Regions from separate parts of the Homo sapiens genome. Here regions 1 and 2 are each linked to region 3. The links come from fine-mapping of genetic effects on gene expression. A gene starts in region 3. Each other region holds a variant in brackets. All regions are shown on one strand. Distances are from middle to middle.

Region 1 (8,183 bases), 730 kb after region 3:
CACGTGTGTTTTTATGAGAATTATGCCGAGATAGGTAACAGATGAGGATGAAATTTGGGCTTGACTGAAGTAATGGGGGCTGTCTACTAAGCCTTGCAGCAGTACAGCCTAGGTAATTTGCTGAGCCTAATGGGTGTCAGGGTCAGTCTAAGTGAAAGCGAAGAGAGGCTGGGACGAGAGGTGCAGGGGAATAGTGAAAAAAGCATCTTTAAGATCAAGCACGGAACAGTGAGTTGTGGAGGAAGGTATTGAGGACAAAAGAGTGTACGGGTTGGGCACTGCAGGGTGGATAGGCAAAACAATTTGGTTGCTAAGGCGCAGATCCTGAACTAACTTGTAAGGCTTGTCTGGTTTTAGGACAGGTAAAATGGGGGAATTGTAAGGAGAGTTTATAGGCTTTAAAAGGCTATGCTGTAGCAGGCGAGTGATAACAGGCTTTAATCTTTTTAAAGCGTGCTGCGGGATGGGATATTGGCGTTGAGTGGGGTAAGGGTGATTAGGTTTTAATGAGATGGTAAGGGGTGCATGATCGGTCACCAAGGAGGGAGTAGAGGTATCTTATACTTGTGGGTTAAGGTGGGGGGATACAAGAGGAGGACGCAAAGGAGGCTTTGGATTGGGAAGAAGGGCGGCAATGAGATATAGCTGTAATCCAGGAGTAGTCAGGGAAGCAGATAATTTAGTTAAAGTGTCTCAGCCTAATAAGGGAACTGGGCAGGTGGGGATAACTAAAAAGGAGTGCTTGAAAGAGTATTGTCTAAGTTGGCACCAGAGTTGGGGAGTTTTAAGAGGTTTAGAAGCCTGGCCATCAGTACTTACAACAGTTATGGAGGCAAGGGAAACAGGCCCTTGAAAAGAAGGTAATGTGGAGTGGGTAACCTCTGTATTGATTAAGAAGGGGACGGGCTTACCTTCCACTGTGAGAGTTACCGGAAGCTCGGCGTCCGTGATGGTCTAGGGGGCTTCCGAGGCGATCCGGCAGCGTCAGTCTTCAGCTGCTAAGCTGAGAAAATCTGGGAAGGAGTCAGTCAGAGAGCCTTGGGCCAGAGTTCCAGGGGCTCTGGGAGTGGCTGCCAGGTGAGTTGAACAGTCCGATTTTCAGTGGTGTCCTACACAGATGGGACGTGGCTTAGGAGGAATCCCAGGCTGCAGGCATTCCTTGGCCCAGTGGCCAGATTTCCAGCATGTGTAGCAAGCTCCTGGGGGAGGAGGTTCTGGAGGAATGCCTGGCTGCTGCGTTTCAGACGTTTGGAAGTTCTTGTGTGCTGGAGATGTGGCTGGGGTTTGTCTCACAGTGGAGGCAAAGAATTGCAACTTTTTTCTGTTATTGTACACCTTGAAGGTGAGGTTAATGAAGTCCTGTTGTGGGGTTTGAGGGCCAGATTCCAATTTTTGGAGTTTTATTTAATGTCAGGAGCAGATTGGGTAATAAAATGTATATTGAGAATAAGACGGCCTTTTGACCTTTTAGGGTCTAGGGCTGTAAAGTGTCCCAGGGTTGCTGCCGAACGAGCCATGAACTGGGCTGGATTTTTATATTTGATGAAAAAGAGCCTAAACACTTCTGATTTGGGAGAAAGAAAAAGGAGCGTTAACCTTGATTATGTCTTTAGCTCCAGGAACCTTTTTAAGAGTAAATTGCTGGGCAGGTGGGGGAGGGCTAGTCAAGGAAAGAAACTGTAAGCCGGACCAGGTGTGAGGAGGGGAGGTGATAAAAGGATTATAGGGTGGAGGAGCAGAGGCTGAGGAAGAATTGGGACCTAGCTCAGCCTGGCGAGGAGCAGCCTGGGGAGGAGGGGAGAGGTCAGATGGGTCTGTAGAAAAGGAAGATTAGAAAGACTCAGCGACGCTTGGGGTTGGTACTGACGGGACAGGCGGGAGGGAAAGAAGGAAGATTTGGGACGAGTTGCACTGGGCACAGAGACTAGGGAGGGACTGATGTGTAAAAGAATGCCTGGATGTCAGGCATCTCAGACCGTTTGCCTATTTTACGACAAGAATTATTTAGATTTTGCAGGATGGAAAAATTCAAAGTGCCATTTTCTGGCTATTTGGAACTACTGTCGAGTTTGTATTGGGGTCAAGCGGCATTGCAGAAGAAAATAAGGCATTTAGGTTTTAGGTCAGGTGTGAGTTGAAGAGGTTTTAAGTTTTTGAGAACACAGGCCAAGGGAGTAGAAGGAGGAATGGAGGGTGGAAGGTTGCCCATAGTGAAGGAAGCAAGCCTAGAGAAAAGAGAGAGTAGAGAAATGGAGGGAAGGGGTTCGGGGGTTCTTACCTTCCAGAAAAGTGGGAAAAGGGGTTGGGGCACAGAGATAAGAGGTTGGGGTGCGGAAATAAGGGATTGGGGTGCAGAGATATAAGAGGTTGGGGCACGGAAATAAGGGATTGGGGGTTCTTACCCCATAGAAAAGCGGGACTTGCCGCTAAGGGTGAAGGAGAAGGGGTTGAGGGGTACTTGCCCCTGTCCCAGAAAAGCAGAGAAGGGGTAGAGACAAGGAGAGAAGGGGTTGGGGTACTTGCCCCTTCCCCAGAAAAGCGGGACTTGCTGCTAAGGGTGAAGGACCAAGGCAGGTGTCCCTGTGTGGTCTGACACCCTTGAAACGTGAGTGTATAATCAGAGAGGTGTCCCTGCAATGATTAAACACCAAGGGAAGGCTGCCTTCCCAGTCCGTGACCGGCGCAGGAGTTTTGGGTCCATGGATAAAATGTGTCTCCTTTGTCTTTCCCAGAAAATGAAAGGAATAGAAATTAAGAAAAGGGAGAGATTGAAGAGTGGAAAGGAGAAAGTGGTTGAGGGACAGTGAGAGAGGTTGGAGAAGAGAGTAAGAAGAGGACACTTACCTGATTTAAAATTGGTGAGATGTTCCTTGGGCTGGTCGGTCTGAGGACCTGAGGTCATAGGTGGATCTTTCTCACGGAGCAAAGAACAGGAGTACAGGGGATTGATCTCCCAAGGGAGGTCCCCCGATCCGAGTCACGGCACCAAATTTCATGCGCGTCTGTATGAAGAGACCACCAAACAGGCTTTGTGTGAGCAACATGGCTGTTTATTTCACCTGGGTGCAGGCGGGCTGAGTCCGAAAAGAGTCAGGAAAGGGAGATAAGGGTGGGGCCGTTTTATAGGATTTGGGTAGGTAAAGGAAAATTGCAGTCAAAGGGGGTTTGTTCTCTGGCGGGCAGGAGTGGGGGGGTCGCAAGGTGCTCAGTGGGGGTGATTTTTGAGCCAAGATGAGCCAGGAAAAGGACTTTCACAAGGTAATGTCATCAGTTAAGGCAAGGACCGGCCATTTACACTTCTTTTGTGGTGGAATGTCATCAGTTAAGGTGGGGCAGGGCATATTCACTTCTTTTGTGATTCTTCAGTTGCTTCAGGCCATCTGGGCGTATATGTGCAAGTCACAGGGGATGCGATGGCTTGGCTTAGGCTCAGAGGCCTGACACAAGTTATATGATGAAAGATGCAAATTAGAAAATATCAGCCAAAATGTTTGAACACTGACTTAGCATGTTTATGCACTATATTTCTCGCATATATGCAAAGTTTTGGCTTAACTGTTTCCAGAGCAATATACTTTAAATTTTAAAATACACTCCTTATAAAAATGAGGTACTTATAATGCTTAACATTAAAATATATCCCTAAATACTAAAGAACTTATCATCAAAATCTGTCCCACCTGTCCCATCTCCCCATCCTTCTCTCTTGAGATTTCATTTGCTCCAGAGGTTTTCTGTGATAGAACCAGAGTTCTCATTCTATATTTGACCACACCAAAGTATAGGTAAAGGTGAGGGTGATCCATTTCACATCACCACCCTATCAGATGTCCAGAGATCCATTTGCCTTTTTGCGGTCTTATGAACAGTTGTATGGGGAGTGGTGATCCAGATGGTCTCAAATAGGATGGTGGTGTCTGCTGTCAAAAGGAAGTCCACATCAGAAGCTGCCTTCCCCTAAGAAGGAGCACGTTTTTCTCACTCAACTAGAGCCTGAGCTGTGCTTCTTTGGAGGTTCCTGTTGCCCCTTCAGCTCTCACATCACTTCAGGGCACTGATAGCAGAAGATGCTGGCTTGAGTAGAGGTTAGTGGTGGCCCAAGGCAGAGCAGCTTTTTTTTTTCATGGTTTGGCCCCTTCCTTCTTTTTTTTTTTTTTTTGACACCCAGGCTGCTTGCTTGCTTGCTCTGCTACCCAGGCTGGAGTGCAGTGGCACGATCTCAGCTCACTGCAACCTCCGACCTCGGGTTCAAGAGATTCTCAAGCCTCAGCCTCCTGAGTAGGTGGGATTACAGGCAAGTGCCATCATGGCCACCTAATTTTTGTATTTTTATTAGAGATGGGGTTTTATCATGTTGGCCAGGCTCTTGATCTCAAGTGATCCACCCGCCTTGGCTTCCCAAAGTGCTGGAATTACAAGCATGAGCCA[C/T]CACGCCCGGCCAGCTTGGCCCCTTCCTATTAGTCATACTTAACAGAGGCCTTTCTGATTTCTCTCTTTTTCTCGATACTTCCTCCCTGACCCTTGCCTGCATTCCTGGGAATTTATTTCTAGTCTTTGGGAAGGGGAAGACCACTTTTATATACAAGATTTTCTTTAAAAAAATCCTTTTTGTTTGTGGCATGATATTTCTCTGAGTAGAGACCTTTTTCTTTTTTCTTTTTCTTTTATGCTTTTACTATGAAATTAGAAAATTAACATGGAATAATCTAGCTGAGTGAACAGCAATGTATTGGAAGCATAGAGGCATAAGGAAAACACACACAAATAAGTGTAAGTTTATTCTTCCAAAATAAAATCCTGCTACATCTACATGCTCCTAAATAGTATACCATTTCTGCCATTTTTAAATTTATGGAACTGCTTTTTATTCTAATTAGAGCTTAGAAGTCAATTCATACACATCAGGACTATCAACTCTTCCCCTCTTACGAATTTCCTCATTTTTTAAACTTGAGAGATAACACAAATAAAGTGCACAAATTATAAGTACTTGATGAATTTTTTATTCATGCATACACCCATACAGTTATTAACCAGTTTGAGATACAGACTGTTCCTAGAACCAACAAAGCCTCCTTCATGCCTCGTGTCTATTAATAATTATTCTTTTAGCCTTAAGAAAACCACTATTCTGATGTCTAACTTTGTAAATCATTTTTGCCTCTTTGTGGACATCATGTAAGTGAAATAATGAAGTACATATTCTTTGCATCTGCATCCTTTCTCTCAGCTTAAAGTCTGTGATACTTTTTTAAATTTTATTTTAAAGTCAGGGGTACATGTGCAGAATGTGCATGTTTGCTACAGAGGCAAACATGTGCCATGGTGGTTTGCTGCACAGATCATCCCATCACCTAGGTATCAAGGCCAGAATCCCTTAGACATTTTCCCTGATACTCTCCCTCCTCCCCACCCACCCTCTGACAGGCCCCAAGGTATGTTGTTCCCCACAATGTGTCCATGTGTTCTCATCATTCAGCTCCGTCTTATAAGTGAGACCATGCGGTGTTTTGTTTTCTGTTCCTGCATTAGTTTGCCGAGGATAATGGCCTCCAGCTCCATCATGTCCCTGCGAAGGACACGATCTTGTTTCTTTTTATGGCTGCATTGTATTCCATGGTATATATGTACCACATTTTCTTTATCCAGTCTCTCACTGATGGGCATTTAGGTTGATTCCATATGTCTGTTATTGTGAATAGTATTTCAGTGAACTTACATGTGCATGTATCTTCATAATGGAATGATTTACATTCCTTTGGATATATACCCAGTAATGGGATTTCTGGGTCAAATGGTATTTCTGCCTCTAGGTCTTTGAGGAGTCACTACACTGTTTTCCACAATGGTTGAACTAATTTACATTCCCATCAACAGTGTAAAAGCGTTTCTTTTTCTCCACAACTTTGCCAGCATCTGTTGTTTTTTTGACTTTTTAACAATAGCCATTCTGACTGGTGTGAGATAATATCTTGTGGTTTTGCTTTGCATTCTTCTAATGATCAGTGATGTTGAGCTTTTTTTCATATGTTTGTTGGCCGCATGTAAGTCTTCTTTTGAGAAATGTCTGTTCATATCATTTTCCCACTTTTTAATGGGGTTGTTTCTTTCCTGTAAATTTGTTTAAGTTCTGTGTAGATGCTGGACATTAGACGATGGTCAGATAGTTGGATTGCAAAACTATTCTCCCATTCCATAGGTTATCTGTTCACTCTGATAATAGTTTCCTTTGCTGTGCAGAAGCTCTTTAGTTTAATCAGGTTTGTCAATTTTTTGTGTCAATTTTTGGTTTTGTCACAATTGCTTTTGACATCTTCATCATGAAGTCTTTGCTCATGCCTATGTGTGATACTTTTTATTACCAGTAGAATTCCATTATATGAATATACAACAATTTGCTTCTATTGTTCTACTCGTGATGGCCACTTTAGTTATTACCTATTTTTTAATATTATGAATAAAACTTCTCTAAACATTTTTATTTTTCTTGTACATGTACGCTTTTAGTGGATATGTATCCTCATTTCCCTTACATGCATATTGAAAAAATAAATTTCTAAGTCATAGTGGAGGCATGTATTTAGATCTAGAAGGTAATCCCAAACAGTTTTCCAAAGTGCTGGGAAAAATGTATAATTTTACCAGTGGTTTTATATGACTCTCTGTTGCAGAAACCAGCCAAATTGTCCCACAGAACTGATGTTTATTGTTTCTTTTAAACAAACATAGAAATTGACCCTCTCAGTCTTAAAACTTGAGAAACCTACATTTGTCTAATCTGAGTTTCCTTCCTAGGAAACCAACCATCAGACCTCCCAGAAAGTATCAAGGAACTGAAACTTACCAGATCACCACATCTGGACTATGAGAGCCAGACACCTAACCCATCATAGTTGCCTAACCAACCACCTGCTTCCTGTTGACCAACTCCTCTTCCTTACCCCTCCCTAATTCCTATTTTCCCACATACAGTTACATTTTTTTTTTCCTGCTACATAAACCTCTAATTTTAGTCAATTGAGGAGATGAATTTGAGACTGACTTCCCATCTCCTCAGCTGCGGCACCCAAATAAACCCTTCTTCTCTGGCAACACTTGTCTCAGTGGTTTGCTTTCTGTGCAGTAAGCAATGGCTGTTTCAGTAACATTGCCTGCTTCCTTGCCAACACTTCTATTGTTGATCTTTTTTTTTTTTAAGCTTCACATATTTTGGGCCATATTATACATTGGCATATAATTGTAGCTTAAATCTGAATTCTCTTATGATTAATGGCACCTATAACTTTTTGGTCATTTGGATGTCCTCTTCTGTATAATGTCTGTTAAGCCTTTGGCTACCATTTATTAATTATATATATTTGCATACATATAATATACATATATTTTCTAAGTTTTTTGCGTGTGTAAATTACCTTGTATTTTGCATACATACACACAGACTGGATTTTATATTGAAATTGTATGGAAGCTATATTTCTAGATTCTACATGTATTAGAAGAGAACAAACACCTTAACCGTGCTGAATCTTCCAATCCATGAACAAAAATTATCTGTCTATTTATTTAGGTTGCCTTTACTTTTTTTTTTTTTTTTTTTTTGAGACGGGGTCTCGCTCTGTTGCCTGGGCTGGAGTGCAGTGGCATGATCTCCGCTCACTGCAAGCTCTGCCTTCCAGGTTCACGCCATTCTCCTGCCTCAGCCTCCCGAGTAGCTGGGACTACAGGCGCCCGCCACCACGCCTGGCTAATTTTTTGTATTTTTTTAGTAGAGACGGGGTTTCACCGTGTTAGCCAGGATGGTCTTGATCTCCTGACCTCGTGATCCGCCTGGCTTGGCCTCTCAAAGTGCTGGGATTACAAGCGTGAGCCACCGCGCCTGGCCTGCCTTTACTTTTTCACAGAAAAACTTCACCAATTTTAGCAATAATGTCTGACAAAATTCTTGTTAGATTTTTTTCTTAGGTATTTAATAGTTTATGGTGTTATAGAATATGGTCTTATTTATCTACTTTCATTTTCTAATATTTTGTGGCTGGTGAATTGAAAGCGTTTGCTCTTTTTTTTTTTTCAGCTTTATTGAGGTATAATTGATACATACCCTAAAGGGCACATGTTTAAAGGTACATGTGTTTCGACATATGTGTTGTATTTATGAAATGACCGTTAAGATAATAAACTTGTCC
Region 2 (8,183 bases), 140 kb before region 3:
TATGTCTGCTGAAGGTCCTGTATTTCTGAGGCTGTTTTTAATGAATAATCTACAGTCTCAGGAAAAGCAATAACTGTATTCAAGCAAACAAGCTCTTCTCTAACATGGAGTCAGTACTGTTACAGTTTTTTTTTTTTTTTTTTGAGACAGAGTCTCTCTCTGTCACCCAGGCTGGAGTGCAGTGGCGTGATTTCTGCTCACTGCAAGCTCTGCCTCCTGGGTTCACGCCATTCTTTTGCCTCAGCCTCCCAAGTAGCTGGGACTACAGGCACCCGCCACCACACCCGGCTCATTTTTTTTTGTATTTTTAGTAGAAACGGGGTTTCACCGTGTTAGCCAGGATGGTCTCGATCTCCTGACCTCGTGATCCGCCCGCCTCGGCCTCCCAGAGTGCTGGGATTACAGGCATGAGCCACCGCACCTGGCCATGTACTGTTCCAGTTTTATCCAATAGTGCATACAATTTAGAAGCAGTGAAAAACATTCTGATTATGACCAACTTTAAAGATGTAATGTCAGTCCATTCTGGCCAATGTGGAAACAGGTTCTATGGTCTTTCCATATCTTTCAGTGTTCTCAGAACCAAGTTTCAATAGCCTTAATATTTCATTACTTTTGAGAAAAAAAAAAAGTTGCCCTCTGACTTCATGCCAGAAAAACTGCTAAGGATTTTATATTATCTCCTTAAATCCTCACAGCAACGTTGATAGATTAAGTCAATCCCTCAGGATTGGGTTTGCCTGTGATAGAAAACTCACACTCCCTTGCCCCCTTATGAACAAAGTCTGAAGGTAAACTGTGCAAAATGATGAATACCTCTGCTAGCATAAGTGATCTAGGTTCTTTCTATCTTTTGGCTCTTCTGCCTTTTAATATATCACTTCCTGCTGATGGTTTAAGATCACTCTTTAGCCCCAGGCATCGTGTTTCATTCTAGTCACGAAGAAGACAGACAGGATAGAAATGCATGTGCCCTTGCTCTTTAAGAATACTTCTTGAAAGTGCCATATGGGACTCTGCCTTCCACTGCTTGGTCAGAACTTAGCTACGTGGCCACACCTAGCTGCAAGGGAGGGTGGAAAACATATTCTCCATTCCAGGCAGCCAAATGCATGGTTTTTTAAAAAGGAAGAAGAGTATTGGAGGACAGTTCCACAGAGGTGTTATAAATACCATTTTGTGGATGAGAAATCAGGTGCAACGATATTGAGCTCTGACCTTTGAAGGAGCATAAAGAACTAGTCAGGAATACCTGTGTTCTTTTCCAGTGAATTCACAGCTGGAGTCACCCTAGCAGTGGCATCTGGGGTGCCACTGCTGGCATCAGGGGAGTTCCCACAAGGGAGTACCGCAAGCCATCCCAAGATGGGACCAGTTGGAATCCCAAAGAAAGAAGCACTAGATGCCAGGGTGATCAGTTCAAATTTATTACGAGAACTTAGGTAGAAACTGGGTTTCACCATTTCCTCCAGATAGGCAGTTAGGGAAAGAGGTGCTCTACCTAGCGAGGTCTGCAGCACGAGGATCAGGGAATGGAGTTGATGAGAGATTAAGGCATTTGGCTCAGGGCCTGGCCAGTTCCTCTCAGTGTTTGGGGCAACAACCTAAACACCTTTGTAGGTGTCTGGGAATGTTCGAAGCGAAACCTTGGGTTCCAGCCTGCAGGGCAAATTGTGTAGCTGATGGGGTCACAGGACAGTTGAGGCACTCTCTGTTTCTTGGTTAGGACAGAAAACGGGAAAACGGAGTACCCTTCAACTACTATGCGGTAGCGGGGAGAAAGTTTCAGAATGATTTTAAAAACTAAATTAGAATGAACTTCAGTTATTCCAACAATAGCATAACTTGTTCTATGGCAATCTGACGTGCTTTCTTACATGACGGGGGCTGTAGTCAGCAGCACTCCACTGTATGTATCCCACAGCCCACCTTCTTATGCTCTCATCCGTAATCCAAATATACCCACGGGAGTGTGGCAACCCTGTGAATTTCACCCAACACGTGTGGAGATAGAAAAGGGAATTGAAAACCAAACCCGATGCTGCTCTGCCACCCTACTCTCTTCTTGTGTCAGTGAAACCTTTCCTGAAAACTCAAGGAGATGCTTCCAGAACTGTTCTGTCACTTGGGCTTACCCCTAGTATAGATACTGACAGCCAACAGTTTCCTAGGGAGATAAGAGACAAGAAGCCTAAGGTATCTTCCAAGATCAAATCTACCTCCTTAGTCCTAATCCAAAGTTGTCCATCCCATTAAACCAAAGGTGGGAGAATCTACTATGGAGTGGCCTCACTGACATCCAGACAGACAACTGGAATAAGCTTTAGCCCCCAGTTCTAAATATTCACAGTGACTCACAAGTGGTTCGTAGATAGACCCAACTTCTTCAGGTGGACTTTGGTGCTTGTGCCTCCGTTGACCTTGTTAACCAAAAAGTGACTGCGACATGTTTCAATCAATTACAGGTTTATTTAGCCAAGGCTGAGGACACGCTGGGTCCCTGCACTGCCTTCTTCTCTGTTGGTCTCCTGAAAGCCTCTGCTTAAGGAGGTCTCCGTGGCCATCTTTAGCATCTCAGAGTGAATTAAATCCCCCTTTCTAAGGGCATTTTCCCGTGAAGCTTTATTCTCTGTGACATAAGGGGAGAGGGATTTTTAGAGAACCTGGGGTGGCGGGGGCTTTGGAGAGAGGGGGGATTCTCAGGGGATTTCCCTCTCCCCAGAGATACATCTCTCCATGAAACAAACAAACAGAAAGCACACAGTACAGTGCACAGCACACAGTCAGTGCTCAGGAAGCGTTGGTTCCCTGTCTGCCTACTGCAGTTGGTACAAACAACACTCAGGGTGCCAAGCTTCAGTTTGGTGAAGAAAAGCATAGCCCACATTCCAGTTCTCGGGCCTCGTCTTGAAGGGTAAGGGCAGCTCAGGCCCTGGCATTGCTTGTCCTGAGGACAGGCCAGCACGTCCTGTGCCTGGTGGTCTCCAGAAATGCTGTTGCCTGCCTGCTGCCACTCTGCATCTCAAGCTTATCCCCCCATGCCTTGCCAAAGCCCACTCCATCTCCCTCCCCTCCCAATCCACCTGGAGCTCCCACCTGTCATCTTTCCTTCCCA[C/T]CGTGGGGCAGGTGGCGATCTGCAGGCCTCCCTGAGAGAGAACTGCCCCTACCCTGCCTCAAAGCCAGGGGCACTGATCCAGCTCTCAGCTCCAAGAAGATGGACTGGGATCTTCCCTTAATGCCTTCTGGGGTCTGGGAATAAAGATGGAGAGAGGCACTGAGCTGAGCACAAACAGGAAAAGGAAGAGCTCATGGCTCAGAGCTGAAGAAGACAGGACCCAGTGAGCAGAGGACTGTGTCCCCATAGGGAAAGACATGTTCTGGTAAAAGGCAGGTCAGGAGTTCAGGAAGGATTCAGGCTCAGTAGGGACTCCGGCTCACTGCCCTCTGCTTGGGAGAGCAAACCCTCCTAGGTGAGGTTTCCTTTCTGTGCCTTTACTGCAGGGAGCTGGTGTCAGAATCAAGGGCACCATCAAAACAGGATACCACAGACATCTCAGCTGTGCCAAACTAATGCCCAAAGGCTCAGCTGTTGCAGGTAGGGGTGGGAGGGCAGGCCCTCACAGGTGGGCCTCCTCACAGGCCCACCCTGCCCTTTATGGCACAGCCCAGGACCGTTAGGTCAAAGCTGACTTTTCCCAGTCTCAAAGCGCCGTCTTATCTGTTGCTTTATTTGTAACTCACAACAGGCCTCTGAGTCAGGCAGGGCATATGTCACTCCTATTTCATAGAAAGAGAAACTGAGGCATGGGGTGGGCTAAGTGACTTGGGCCAGAGGGTAAGTGAATTGGAGTCAGGACTCAGATCTCCTTGGATCCACACCAGACATCCTCCCACATGGAACCCTCTCCCTAATCTTAACACTTCCATGGCGTCATGCCTTCATCAGCCATCACAAGAAAATGAGGCCACAGAAATTGCATGCATGTTCATGTGTGTGTGTGCCTGTGTGTGTGTATATACACAAGTTCATGTGTTTGTGCATGTGTGCATATGTGCATGCGTGATGCCTTACTTGCTGAGGGAAGGGGAGGAGGGTTGGCAGCTGCTGATGATTTTCTCTATCTTGAATGTTGTAAGTGCTTTTCCCAGGAGAGCCAGATAGCCATGGTGTGTCAGGAGAGGTCTCAGAATGAGACTTATGAAGTGAAGATGAACAATGACACAGAGGCCTGCAGTGAGCCCAGTCTGCTCTCCACAGAGATGTGAGCTCTGCTGTCCTCTGCCCAGGATGGCCTGGGTGTGGAGATGGGTCTGGGGAGGCAGGGGCAGGTCCTCAAGATCCCTCCTCTGGGCATGATTTGTAGGAGGAGGGGATATCACAGAGAAAAAACCTGCACGGCCTCTGTCATCTTCTTAGTGGAATGGGGGCCCCCATCTCTCTTTTTCACACACACACACACACACACACACACACAGCCCTTTTTAGTTTGGCCTTCTTCTTAGTGGAATGGGGGCCCCCATCTCTCTTTTTCACACACACACACACACACACACACACACACACACCCCTTTTTAGTTTGGCCTTTCCTGACTGGGAAAACATCTAAACATGGTTTCTTAAACTGTTTAGGCTGTAACCAACAGACATAAATATATTTTCTGGTGACACTTAGTGCACAAATACATATATTGACAAACAAGTGTTTTGTGACACTACTATAAAATAAAGCTGCCCAGAAGAGGGCACTGGTGGCAAATCTAGGCCTGAGATTATTTTGACCTTGCTGGAATTTTTTGAATATTTTTGCTGCATATCTAGATGCATTAGAAGGTTGTGGCATCCATTTGGCTTTTAAATGCCAGCTATGAGAGAGGAGGTGGCCGCAGCACTGGCTAAAGGGCAGAAGGAAAAAGGGAAAATTCTCCTCCAAGGGAGCAGACCAATGTTGCTTAGACCCTAGCTCTGATCACCCTTCTCTCAAAACTCTGCATCCAAACCTCATCCTCAGGTTGATCTCTTCTACCCTTGACTGCTCTGTTCCCAGATGTACTGGGTTGAAAAAGTTCATGTCCACTCAGAACCCGGAATGCGACCTTGTTTGAAAATAGGGTCTTTGCAGATGTTACCAAGGTAAGGGGAGCTCAGTGGATAAAAGTGGGCCCTACTTAGTCCAGTGATTGCTGGTTTTATTAAGAAGAGAACACACACACAGACACACACGCACCAAACACACACACACACATATACACAAGAATGTGCCCTGTGAAAATGCAGGCAGAGCTTAGAGTGGCCTGGATCTGTATGTTGCTTCAGTTCTGGGAGCTCCCATGAGCCTGCAGAGAGATTGCAGGGTCTTCCTGAACAGTTCCTGAGGAGGAAAGAGAGACTCAGAGGATTGCCCCGATGTCGCCCTTCTCTCCTCCTAAACTCTGCTGGGCTCTCCCACTCCCCCAGGAAGACTTCCCTGCTAACTTCTGCCCTGCAAGTTGACCCTGACATTTTCAAGTGCCACCTGCCCCTGTGAACTTGAATGGATTGCGCTGTTCTTTGCACAAGAGCAGAAACGTCTGCCTGGAGTGCGGCTTGTCCTAGTGGCTGGGACTTCCCTGACACACAGCTCCCCCTGTCTGCCATGGAGTGGTCTCACTGACATCTGGGCAAACAACTGGAAGAAGCTACAGCCCCAATTCTAAAGGTTCACAGTGACTGGCAGCTGGTGTTGAGACAGACCCGCCTTCTGCAGGTGAACTTTGGTGCTGGCCTCGGTTGTCCTTTTATAGACATTACCTATTGTGAGGGGCACGACTTTCACCCTCCTGCCCCACCAGTGTGGCAGTGCATTTTTTATTCTTTACATTTTTTATTCATATTATTTCTTGTTCAATTGAAGATGTACTTCTTCCTGAGTGTGCCTGTGGCACAAGAGGCTTTCTGAAAGAAGCTGCTTAGGTGACTCAGCCTGGAAGCTGAGGCAGGTTGCAAGGGGGCATCTTCCTGAGCCCTCAGTATGTCATCCATGAGGGACTGGATGGGCTCCGGGGACTCATTCTTCACTCCTTCCAGAGCTGAAACCAGAATGAGGCCAACTCAGACTCTGGACCCTAAGCACCGCCTCCCTAACCCCCTTCTTCCCACCCCATGCCAGGTCAGCATTGCACAGCTCTGCTTAGAATCATGTTTGCACTATAAAAGCAATACTTGTTTCACTGTAGGAAATACTTAATACACAATTTATTTTAAGGAAAAGAAGAAAAATCACTCATCCCAGAGATAACACTGCTAATATTTGGTAGCTGTCCTTGCAGTCTTTTTTTAAAACAGCAACCAAACAAACAAACAAACAAACAACAAAAAACAACCAAATGTTGATAGATTTTTTTTTCACAAAATAGGACTAGTAATTTTTTTCATTCCATAATATATTCCTCTATACAGCATAACAGGCAATCACATGATTCTACCATAACTTTTTTTAAAAAAAAACAGGGCCTCAACCAGTCGCCCAGGCTAAAGTATAATGGTGTGATCATATCTCACTGCAGCCTCAACCTTCTGGGCTCAGGTGATCCTCCTACCTCAGCCTCCTGAGTCATTGGGACTATAGGTGTGAGCCACCACATCTGACTAATTCTATCATAATTGTTTTGGTAAATACCCTATTTCTGAATAATTAGATTCTTTGCAATCTTTCACTGTTACAAAAAGTAATCATAAATTCATTCAGCAACTATATATTGAGGACTTACTATTACCAGGCACTGCTAGGGGCTGGGGATCCAGGGGAGGACAAGAAAAACAGATTACCACCCTTGAGAAGTTAGCATTCTGGTGGGGGAAAGACAAATCAGCAGTTAAATGCAAATTAAGTAAAAGGGAGGAAGTTGAGGGGAGTTCTGAGACCAAATGACTGGGGAGGAGCCCTTAGGCCCATCAGGGGATGCTTCTCTGAGAAGGTGATGCTCCAGCTCAGACCCGAAGTTGAGAGCCAGCCTAGGAACACACAGGGCAAGGGCAGAAGACTTCCACATGGTGTGTGTGGGGGTCTCTTTGTGTCATAGAAAGTACCAGTGTGACTGCAGTTCCCAGAGGGGCAGGAAGTGGTGTAGGCTAAGGGTGAGAGGCCTCAGAGGTCAGGACATTCTGAGTTGGGTGAGTGAGAATATGGGAGCAGACTGAGACCCTAAGAGCAGTAGGGAGCTGCTGAGGGGTTTAAAGCAAGGAGTGGCATGTTCCAGCATGCGTGTTCTAAAGAGAATCTGGCTGCTAAGAGCAGAATCGTATAGAGAAGAGGAAGAGGGTGTTGGGAGGCTGTTAAAGTGGTCCTGTTAGGGAATCATGAGGGTGTAGAGTAGGGTGGGAACAGAAGAAATGGAGACAGGAAATTCCTTAGCATGAAAAGGACAAAGACGAGAAAGAATCTTGGTTCAACAAAACTTGTTCGTTTTAGGCCTTCAAACCCATCAATGTCTACAGCGTCATGTTCGTTTCATTCACTTAGAACAGAACACAAGAACGGGGCTGAAGCTCTAACAGAAAAGACATAAGACCCTTGAGAAAGCATTACTTGAACACAAGGTTTCTGGGACATTAAACATGGGTATAAGTGCTGCTATAGTACCTTTCTGGGGAAGACTTCCTCCTGTCTCGGGGACTTAGGCATCATTATCAAAGGCAGGGTGGGATGAAGAAAGTAAGGTGAATGCTCTGGTAGACTGAGAAGTCTAGGATATACAGGGGGACTTCAGGTGTCAAAACAAGAGGAGAAGGCTTCAGAAGCACACAATGTCAGGGTTGGAATTGAAGCCAGGTTGCAGCCCAAAGGGGACAGACAGCCCTGCCAGTTACTGGTGCTTCAGAGGTGGCACGGCTGCTCTCGGAGAAGCAACTGACTATTTCAGTTTTCCCTGACTACAGCTATAAGGACGCTCCCTACCTGCCACCCTCCATATCATCCCCCGCCCGCACCTAGACACCCGAATCAAGGCAATGAAATTGTCTTGTGGGACATCTATGTGCCCAGCAAAGCTCAGCACATTTTGTGCATTTTTATTCAATAATGACAATGGTGTTCAAGATCAGCGCTGTTACCCTCATGACACGGATGAAGAAAGGCCTAGAGATGAAGTCACGTGCCCAAGTCTGCAGGGTCCTGACTCATAGAGCTGGTATGGAAACTGATCAG
Region 3 (8,183 bases):
GGCTAACATTGATTAAGAACAGTCTTTCCGATCTAGCAAATCTGAATGTGAACATGTTATTTTGGAAAATACGTTCAACCTTCATAACCCACAGATTTCCTCATCTGTGAAATGTGGAATATTATCTATGTCATAATATTTTGGAGAGGATTATATGAAACAATTCTTCTAAATGCTGGGCACAGTGTCTGGCACATGGTAACTGTTCAATGAACAGCAGTTCTTTTTTTCTAAAAGTTGTTTTTTTTTTTTAACTATAGGTAAAAGGCAACTTGGTGACTTTTAAAAATCGTTATTCATTCATGCTAAAATGTAAGGAGTTGAGTGGAGTGTACTGTGTCTGGGAGGAATGTACTCCTGTACTGTGTTTCTGTGGCACCACGTGACATTAGAATTAATGAAGTTACAATGAATCACTACAGGGGTCCGGCGGACGTTAGCTATCTGGAAATACCTACCTATGGCTGTTCTCCATTTGAGTTTAAAAAGTATGTGAAATCATCTCATTTCATTATTCTAAACCTTCCAATGGCTTTTCATCAGGCAAATCTGAGTCTGTAGAATGGCTCATATGTCCCTATTTAAGCTGGCGCCCACTTCTGTTGGATGTTATCACTCACATCTCTCTGGTTTTGTTGACTGCCTTAGACACAATCACCATGCTACAGAGTGACCATAGCCTCAACAGTTTAGCCAGAGTCCAATAGTGGTTTCACATTTTGCCCTCACCCCATCTGGCCTCCATACGCTCACTCTCCACGCAGATGCCTCCTACAATACCACAGGCGTGTTTTCATTTCGATGTGTTTGCACTTGTTGGTCACCTTCCTAGAAGGCTTCTCTCTCAGGGGCTTATGTCTTTGTCCCTCACTTCTGTCAGGTTTTGACTCAATGTCATCTTCTCAGGGAGGCCTTCCTTGATTATTCTGTTTGATATGCTACCCTCCCCGAAAGTTAAATCCTATATTCAAATCTTTCTCAATAACATTAACACCGTCTCATCTTTTATACTGACTTAGTTATTTGTTTATTTTATTGATGGTGTGCCTCCATTTTTTTAATTTTTATTTTTTATTATACTTTAAGTTCTAGGGTACATGGGCACAATGTGCAGGTTTGTTACATATGTATACATGTGCCATGTTGGTTTGTTGCACCCGTTAACTCGTCATTTACATTAGGTATTTCTCCTAGTGCTATCCCTTCTCCCTACCCCCACCCCACAACAGGCCCTGGTGTGTGATGTTCCCTGCCCTGTGTCCATGTGTTCTCATTGTTCAATTCCCACTATGAGTGAGAATATGCGGTGTTTGGCTTTCTGTCCTTGTGATAGTTTGCTCAGAATGATGGTTTCCAGCCTCATCCATGTCCCTACAAAGGACATGAAATCATCCTTTTTTATGGCTGCACAGTATTCCATGGTGTATATGTGCCACATTTTCTCAATCCAGTCTATCAATGATGGACATTTGGGTTGGTTCCAAGTCTTTGCTATTGTGAATGCTGCCGCAATAAACATACGTGTGCATGTGTCTTTATAGCAGCATGATTTATTATCCTTTGAGTATATACCCAGTAGTGGGATCACTGGGTCAAATGGTATTTCTAGCTCTAGATCCTTAAGGAATCGCCATACTGTCTTCCACAAGTGTGCCTCTATTTTACTATAAACTCTATGAAGGAAAATAATTTTCTCTATTTTGTTCACTGCTGTATTCACAGCATGCCTGGTGCAGAGTAGGAGCTTATTTTTTAATGAATGAATAAACTCTAGGGGCATTTTTGCAAACACCTTATCCACTTTTCTAACAGACCAAACCCTTGGCCATTTGGCCATAAGCAAGATCGGTTATCACTCACATCTCTCCTTCTGGTTTTGTTGACTGCCTTAGACACAATCACCGTGCTTGCTACAGAGTGACCACAGCCTCAGCAGTTTAGCCAGAGACCAATAGTGGTTTTACTGTCATTCAATATCAGACCAGTGTTCTATAGTCACATATTTTGCTCTGGCTTTATTCTACTCTTATTTTTTCTTCAGGTTTACTCTCAGAATGACATTTTATAGGATAATTATTACAATCCAAGTAGAAAAAATTTCTGCATCCATTGGTTTGGGATCATAGCAACATTTGGGAAGAGTCTCACTACCTCTATATTCATTTTCTGACAAAAGCCCACTTTCCACCTTTTGCTAGATATGAATAGAGGAAAAGAAAGACTTACTCTTTTCTTTAAAAAAAAATGTTACTCAACCAAATCCTCCCTATAGTTATTAGAACCCTCTGATTTCCTCTACTCTTATGTGAAAATTATACTGAAACTTAATTGACGGCTCTAAGACTTTCTTCTTGACTTAAAACTTTGAGAATTCAATAGTTTAAAACTTAAACAGTCTTAAAACAGCACAAGTCAAATGCTTGGCATGACATGGAATGAATATCAGATTGGTAAACAATTGTAATATTATCAATGATAGTAAATTCAGTTAGATATCAGAAAATAATAATGTGTCATAATAATTTCATGCTGATTTTCTGCCTCAGTTTCTAGTTTCTTCCCATCCATCCACAGGCCATGCTATCCATCATGTGTTACCTCACATTGGTGTTCCCCGCTTCTTTCACTCAGAATGCTAACTCTTCAGAGACACAGGAAAGTGCCAGTTTCAACAAATGGTAAGTAGGTTCGTTACTGATATGCTCGAGTATTTTTGTGGCTTGTCTCTTTCTAAGCTGTGATACTTTTCAAACTAGAAACTATCAGGTAGTAATGATATTCAAATCTTTGATCTTGAATATGATTTTTTTTCCAGAAAGTGTTCCCCTCTCTTGAGAGAGTGAAGTATGTTACTCATTAAGCCTACACTTTATATATATATATATAAAATATATAAAATATATGTATAAAAAGTATATATATATATATAAAATATATAAAATATATGTATAAAAAGTATATATATATATATATATATATATATTTTTTTTTTTTTTTTGAGATAGTCTTGCTGTGTCACCCAGGCTGGAGTACAGTGGCACAATTACAGCTCACTGCAGCCTTGATCTCTTGGGCTCAAGCAATCCTCTCACCTCAGCCTCCCGAGTAGCTAGGACCACAGGCACGTGCCCCACACTTGGCTATTTTTTTGTATTGTTTGTAGAGATGAGGTTTTGCCACATTGCCCAGGCTGGCCTTAAACTCCTGGACTCAAGCAAATCACCTTAGCCTACCAAAGTGTTGGGATTACAGGCATGAGCCACTGCAACTGGCCTACACGTTGTATTCTGAAAGGAATATTATGGATGAAAATGCACTGGGACTTAATCATAGTATTGATATTTTGTAGAGGAATTTGGAATAACGTAGGTTGTTATTACAGCAAGTTTGCAATGTGTCTTAAATATTCCTTAGTTCATACATGTAAAATATTTTTCCTTCCTTCCTTCCATCCTTCCTTCCTTCCTCCTTCTCTTTTTCTTTCTTTCCTTTCCTTTCTCTCTCTTTCTTTTTCTTTCTCTCCTTTCTTTCTTTCTTCTTTTCTTTCTCTTTCTTTCCTTTCTTTCTTTCTTTCTTCCTTTCTTTCTTTCTTTCTTTCTTTCTTTCTTTCTTTCTTTCTTTCTTTCTTTTCTTTCTTTCTTTCTTTCTTCCTTCTTTCCATCCCTGTAGAGCAGGGGTAACCAATAGGCAGTGTGCCCAGGGTAGCCTAAAGTGTTCAGAGTCTTTTAACCAAGGCTCAGTAAGACAAGTGATGTTTGCTTTTCATGCTAACTTGATTGAAAAAAATAAATGTATGAGGTTTAAATTTTTTTTCCCAAAGTTGTGATTATCTACAGGCAAGCCATGCAACACCCGTTAAACATTAATATAAAACTACTGCTCATCTTTAAAGCAATGATTTAAAGCCATAAATGTAACAGGAAGATCTAATTCTGGAAGACATACAAATGCCGAAAGGAAAATTAAAGCCACTTACCCCGAGGAAGAGATGAAGGTGAAGAACTTTCTGGGCCTGAGTCTGTGGGTAAGTTTAACTCAGCATATATTGCTTGTTGGTCCATGGCAGACAGAGGAAGGTGGCATTAAACTTGTGTGTAAGAACAAACTCTCAATTCTGTGAGGCAAAATCAGCAAAAGGAAGCTTTCTGCCTGCAGTACTTTGTTGTCTCTCTTTTGTCCCCACCCACATACACTTTTTGTTGGTGGTTATCTCCATAAATTACTGAGACAATCCACTGACTGCATGTTCATTATACCTAGCTATGTAATATCTACTTTCCTTAATTAACTGGCCTGTTGTTTGAGAAAATTCTGGGAGGCTCATTTGTTCTTGTTTTTCTAACCATCCCTTTTGTGTTCCTCTCTCAGGGCCAGGACCAGAGTGAAGCAAATGAGGCATAGCCTGGGGTTCCAATTTAAGGGGCCCCCAACAAAACTCACTAATTAACAGAAATAATATTTAGCACAATTTTGTAAAAGTAAAAATTAATGCAAAAAAGTCCATAATGCTATTCAAAGGCTCTAAAATCTTCCTGAAATATCTGTGCTCCAAAGAAAGTTGTGAAATGTGAAAAATGGAAACATAAATGTGAGAAAGCCCCCTGAATAACACAACAGAAAAAGCAATGTGCTAAAGATCAGTAGCCTACTGTTAGCTTAGCTCTAAAGGCACTCTTGGATATGATAGCATTTTCACATAAGTAAAAGTATTTGGAAACTGCCAGAATTGTAGGAAGTGGAGTATATGGAATTTTTTATCTCTTTGAAAGACTTTCTTTTTTTTTCAAGGTGATTATAGTATGTGTCTACTTTTTTTTTTTTACCTTTTTTTATTATTATTATACTTTAAGTTCACAATGTACAGGTTTGTTACATATGTATACATGTGCCATGTTGGTGTGCTGCACCCGTTAACTTGTCATTTACATTAGGTATATCTCCTAATGCTATCCCTCCCCCCTCCCCCCACCCCACGACAGGCCCCGGTGTGTGGTGTTCCCCTCCCTGTGTCCAAATATTCTCATTGTTCAATTCCAACCTATGAGTGAGAACATGCGGTGTTTGGTTTTCTGTCCTTGCAATAGTTTGCTCAGAATGATGGTTTCCAGCTTCATCCATGTCCCTACAAAGGACATGAACTCATCCTTTTTTATGGCTGCATACTATTCCATGGTGCATATGTGCCATATATTCTTAATCCAGTCTATCATTGATAGACATTTGGGATGGTTCACGAGTCTTTGCTATTGTGAATAGTGCCACAATAAACATATGTGTGCATGTGTCTTTATAGCAGCGTGATTTATAATCCTTTGGGTATATACCCAGTAATGAGATGGCTGGGTCAAATTCTAGTTCTAGTCCCTCGAGGAATCGCCACACTGTCTTCCACAATGGTTGAACTAGTTTAGAGTCCCACCAACAGTGTAAAAGTGTTCCTATTTCTCCACATCCTCTCCAGCACCTGTTTTTTCCTGACTTTTTAATGACTGTCATTCTAACTGGTGTGAGATGGTATCTCATTGTGGTTTAGATTTGCATTTCTCTGATGGCCAGTGATGATGAGCATTTTTTCATGTGTCTGTTGCCTGCATAAATGTTTTCTTTTGAGAAGTGTCTGTTCATATCCTTTGCCCATTTTTTGATGGGGTTGGTTGATTTTTTCTTGTAAATTTATGTAAGTTCTTTGTAGATTCTGGATATTAGCCGTTTGTCAGATGGGTAGATTGTAAAAATTTTCTCCCATTCTGTAGGTTGTCTGTTCACTCTGATGGTAGTTTCTTTTGCTGTGCAGAAGCTCTTTAATTTAGTTAGATCCCATTGGTCAATTTTGGCTTTTGTTGCCATTGTTATTGGTGTTTTAGTCATGAAGTCCTTCCCATGCCTGTTGCCTGAATGGTATTGCCTAGGTTTTCTTCTAGGGTTTTTATGGTTTTAGATCTAACATTTAAGTTTTTAATCCATCTTGAATTAATTTTTTATAAGGTGTAAGGAAGGGATCCAGTTTCAGCTTTCTATATATGGCTAGCCAGTTTTCCCAGCACCATTTATTAAATAGGGAATCCTTTCCCCATTTCTCGTTTTTGTCAGATTTGTCAAAGATCAGATGGTTGTAGATATGTGGTATTATTTCCGGGGGCTCTGTTCTGTTCCATTGGTCTATATCTCTGTTTTGGTACCAGTACCATGTTGTTTTGGTTGCTGTTGCCTTGGAGTATAGTTTGAAGTCAGGTAGCGTGATGCCTCCAGCTTTGTTCTTTTGACTTAGGTTTGTCTTGGCAATGTGGGACCTTTTTTGGTTCCATATGAACTTTAAAGTAGTTTTTTCCAATTCTGTGAAGAAAGTCATTGGTAGCTTGATGGGGATGGCATTGAATCTATAAATTACCTTGGGCAGTATGGCCATATTCACAATACTGATTCTTCCTATCCGTAAGCATAGAATGATCTTCCATTTATTTGTGTCCTCTTTTATTTCATTGAGCAGTGGTTTGTATTTCTCCTTGAAGAGGTCCTTCACCTCTTTCAAAGATTTTCAGGCATAGAACCTTAGAGCAAGACCTTAGGTGGATTGGGTTCCAAGATGGCCAAATAGGAACAGCTCCAGTCTATAGCTCCCAGCGTGAGCGACACAGAAGATTGGTGATTTCTGCATTTCCAACTGAGGTACTGGGTTCATCTCACTGGGGCTTGGCAGACAGTGGGGACAGCCCATGGTGCAGGGTGGGGCATTGCCTCACCAAGGAAGCGCAAGGGATTGGGGAATTCCCTTTCCTAGCCAAGGGAAGCTATGACAGACGGTACCTGGAAAATCAGGACACTCCCACCCTAATACTGCACTTTTCCAATGGTCTTAGCAAATGGCACACCAGGAGATTATATCCCATGCCTGGCTCGGAGGGTCCCATGCCCACAGAGCCTTGCTCACTGCTAGCACATCAGTCTGAGATCAAACTGCAAGGTGGCAGCGAGGCTACGGGAGGGGCATCCACCATTGCTGAGGCTTGAGCAGGTAAACAAAGCTGCCAGGAAGCTCAAACTGGGTGGAGCCCACTGCAGCTCAAGGAGGCCTGCCTGCCTCTGTCGACTCCACCTCTGAGGGCAGGGCATAGCTGAACAAAATGCAGAAGAAACTTCTGCAGACTTAAACATCCCTGTCTGACAGCGTGGGAGAGAGTAGTGGTTCTCTGAGCATGGAGTTTGAGATCTGAGAACAGACAGACTGCCTCCTCTAGTGGGTCCCTGAGCCCGAGTAGCCTAACTGGGAGACACCTCCCAGTAGGAGCTGACTGACACCTCATACAGCCAGGTGTCCCTCTGAGATGAAGCTTCCAGAGGAAGGATCAGGCAGCAACATTTGCCGTACTGCAATATTTGCTGTTCTGCAGTCTCCACTGGTGATACCCAGGCAAACAGGGACTGGAGTGCACCTCCAGCAGCCTCCAGCAGACCTGCAGCTGAGGGTCCTGACTGTAAGAAGGAAAACGAACAAACAGAAAGGACATCCAAACCAAAACACCATCTGTGTGTCACCATCATCAAAGACCAATGGTAGATAAAATCACAAAGATGGGGAGAAACCAGAGCAGAAAAGCCAAAAATTCTAAAAATCAGAGTGCCTCTTCTCCTCAAAAGGAATGCAGCTCCTCACCAGCAACAGAACAAAGCTGCATGGAGAATGACTTTGATGAGTTGAGAGAAGATGGCTTCAGGCGATTGGTAATAACAAACTTCTCCGAGCTAAAGGAGGAGTTCGAACCCATCGCAAAGAAGCTAAAAACCTTGAAAAAAGATTAGACAAATGGCTAACTAGAATAAACAGTGTAGAGAAGACCTTAAACGACCTGATGGAGCTGAAAACCATGGCACGAGAACTACATGATGCATGCACAAGATTCAGTAGCCAATTTGATCAAGTGGAAGAAAGGGTGTCAGGGATTGAAGATCAAATGAATGAAATGAAGCCAGAAGAGAAGTTTAGAGAAAAAAGAGTAAAAAGAAATGAATGAAGCCTCCAAGAAATGTGGGACTATGTGAAAAGACCAAATCTATGTCTGACTGGTGTACCTGAAAGTGATGGGAAGAATGGAACCAAGTTGGAAAACACTCTTCAGGATATTATCCAGAACTTCCCCAACATAGCAAGGCAGGCCAACATTCAAATTCAGGAAATACAGAGAATA

Alleles and levels. Alleles are on the strand shown, and positions count from the first base shown. SD is a standard deviation of normalised expression in the study named. Not every link is listed here.
For the expression in monocytes of the gene that starts at base 4,138 in region 3, allele C in region 1 goes with a lower level than allele T (moderate effect, 0.65 SD a copy in BLUEPRINT).

The links. PIP is the estimated chance that this variant, and not a neighbour inherited with it, causes the effect.
Region 1: its variant is fine-mapped to the expression of KLRB1 in monocytes (BLUEPRINT, PIP 0.95).
Region 2: its variant is fine-mapped to the expression of KLRB1 in testis (GTEx, PIP above 0.99).

Annotation. Positions count from the first base shown.
Region 1 is chr12:10,335,201-10,343,383 of GRCh38, forward strand. It overlaps LINC02617 (long intergenic non-protein coding RNA 2617), which reads right to left and starts at 3,092. Exons shown (of 3, transcript NR_159946.1): 1 at 2,845-3,092; 2 at 912-1,109. RefSeq lists enhancers at 2,828-3,406, 3,407-3,986. The variant C/T (reference allele first, on the strand shown) is at 4,429.
Region 2 is chr12:9,463,574-9,471,756 of GRCh38, forward strand. It overlaps the pseudogene OVOS1P. Among named protein-coding and RNA genes, the nearest start is that of LINC02367, 100 kb to the left of the region's middle. RefSeq lists a silencer at 5,684-5,733. The variant C/T (reference allele first, on the strand shown) is at 3,116.
Region 3 is chr12:9,603,779-9,611,961 of GRCh38, forward strand. KLRB1 (killer cell lectin like receptor B1) reads right to left here and starts at 4,138. Exons shown (of 6, transcript NM_002258.3): 1 at 3,977-4,138. The coding sequence starts at 4,061.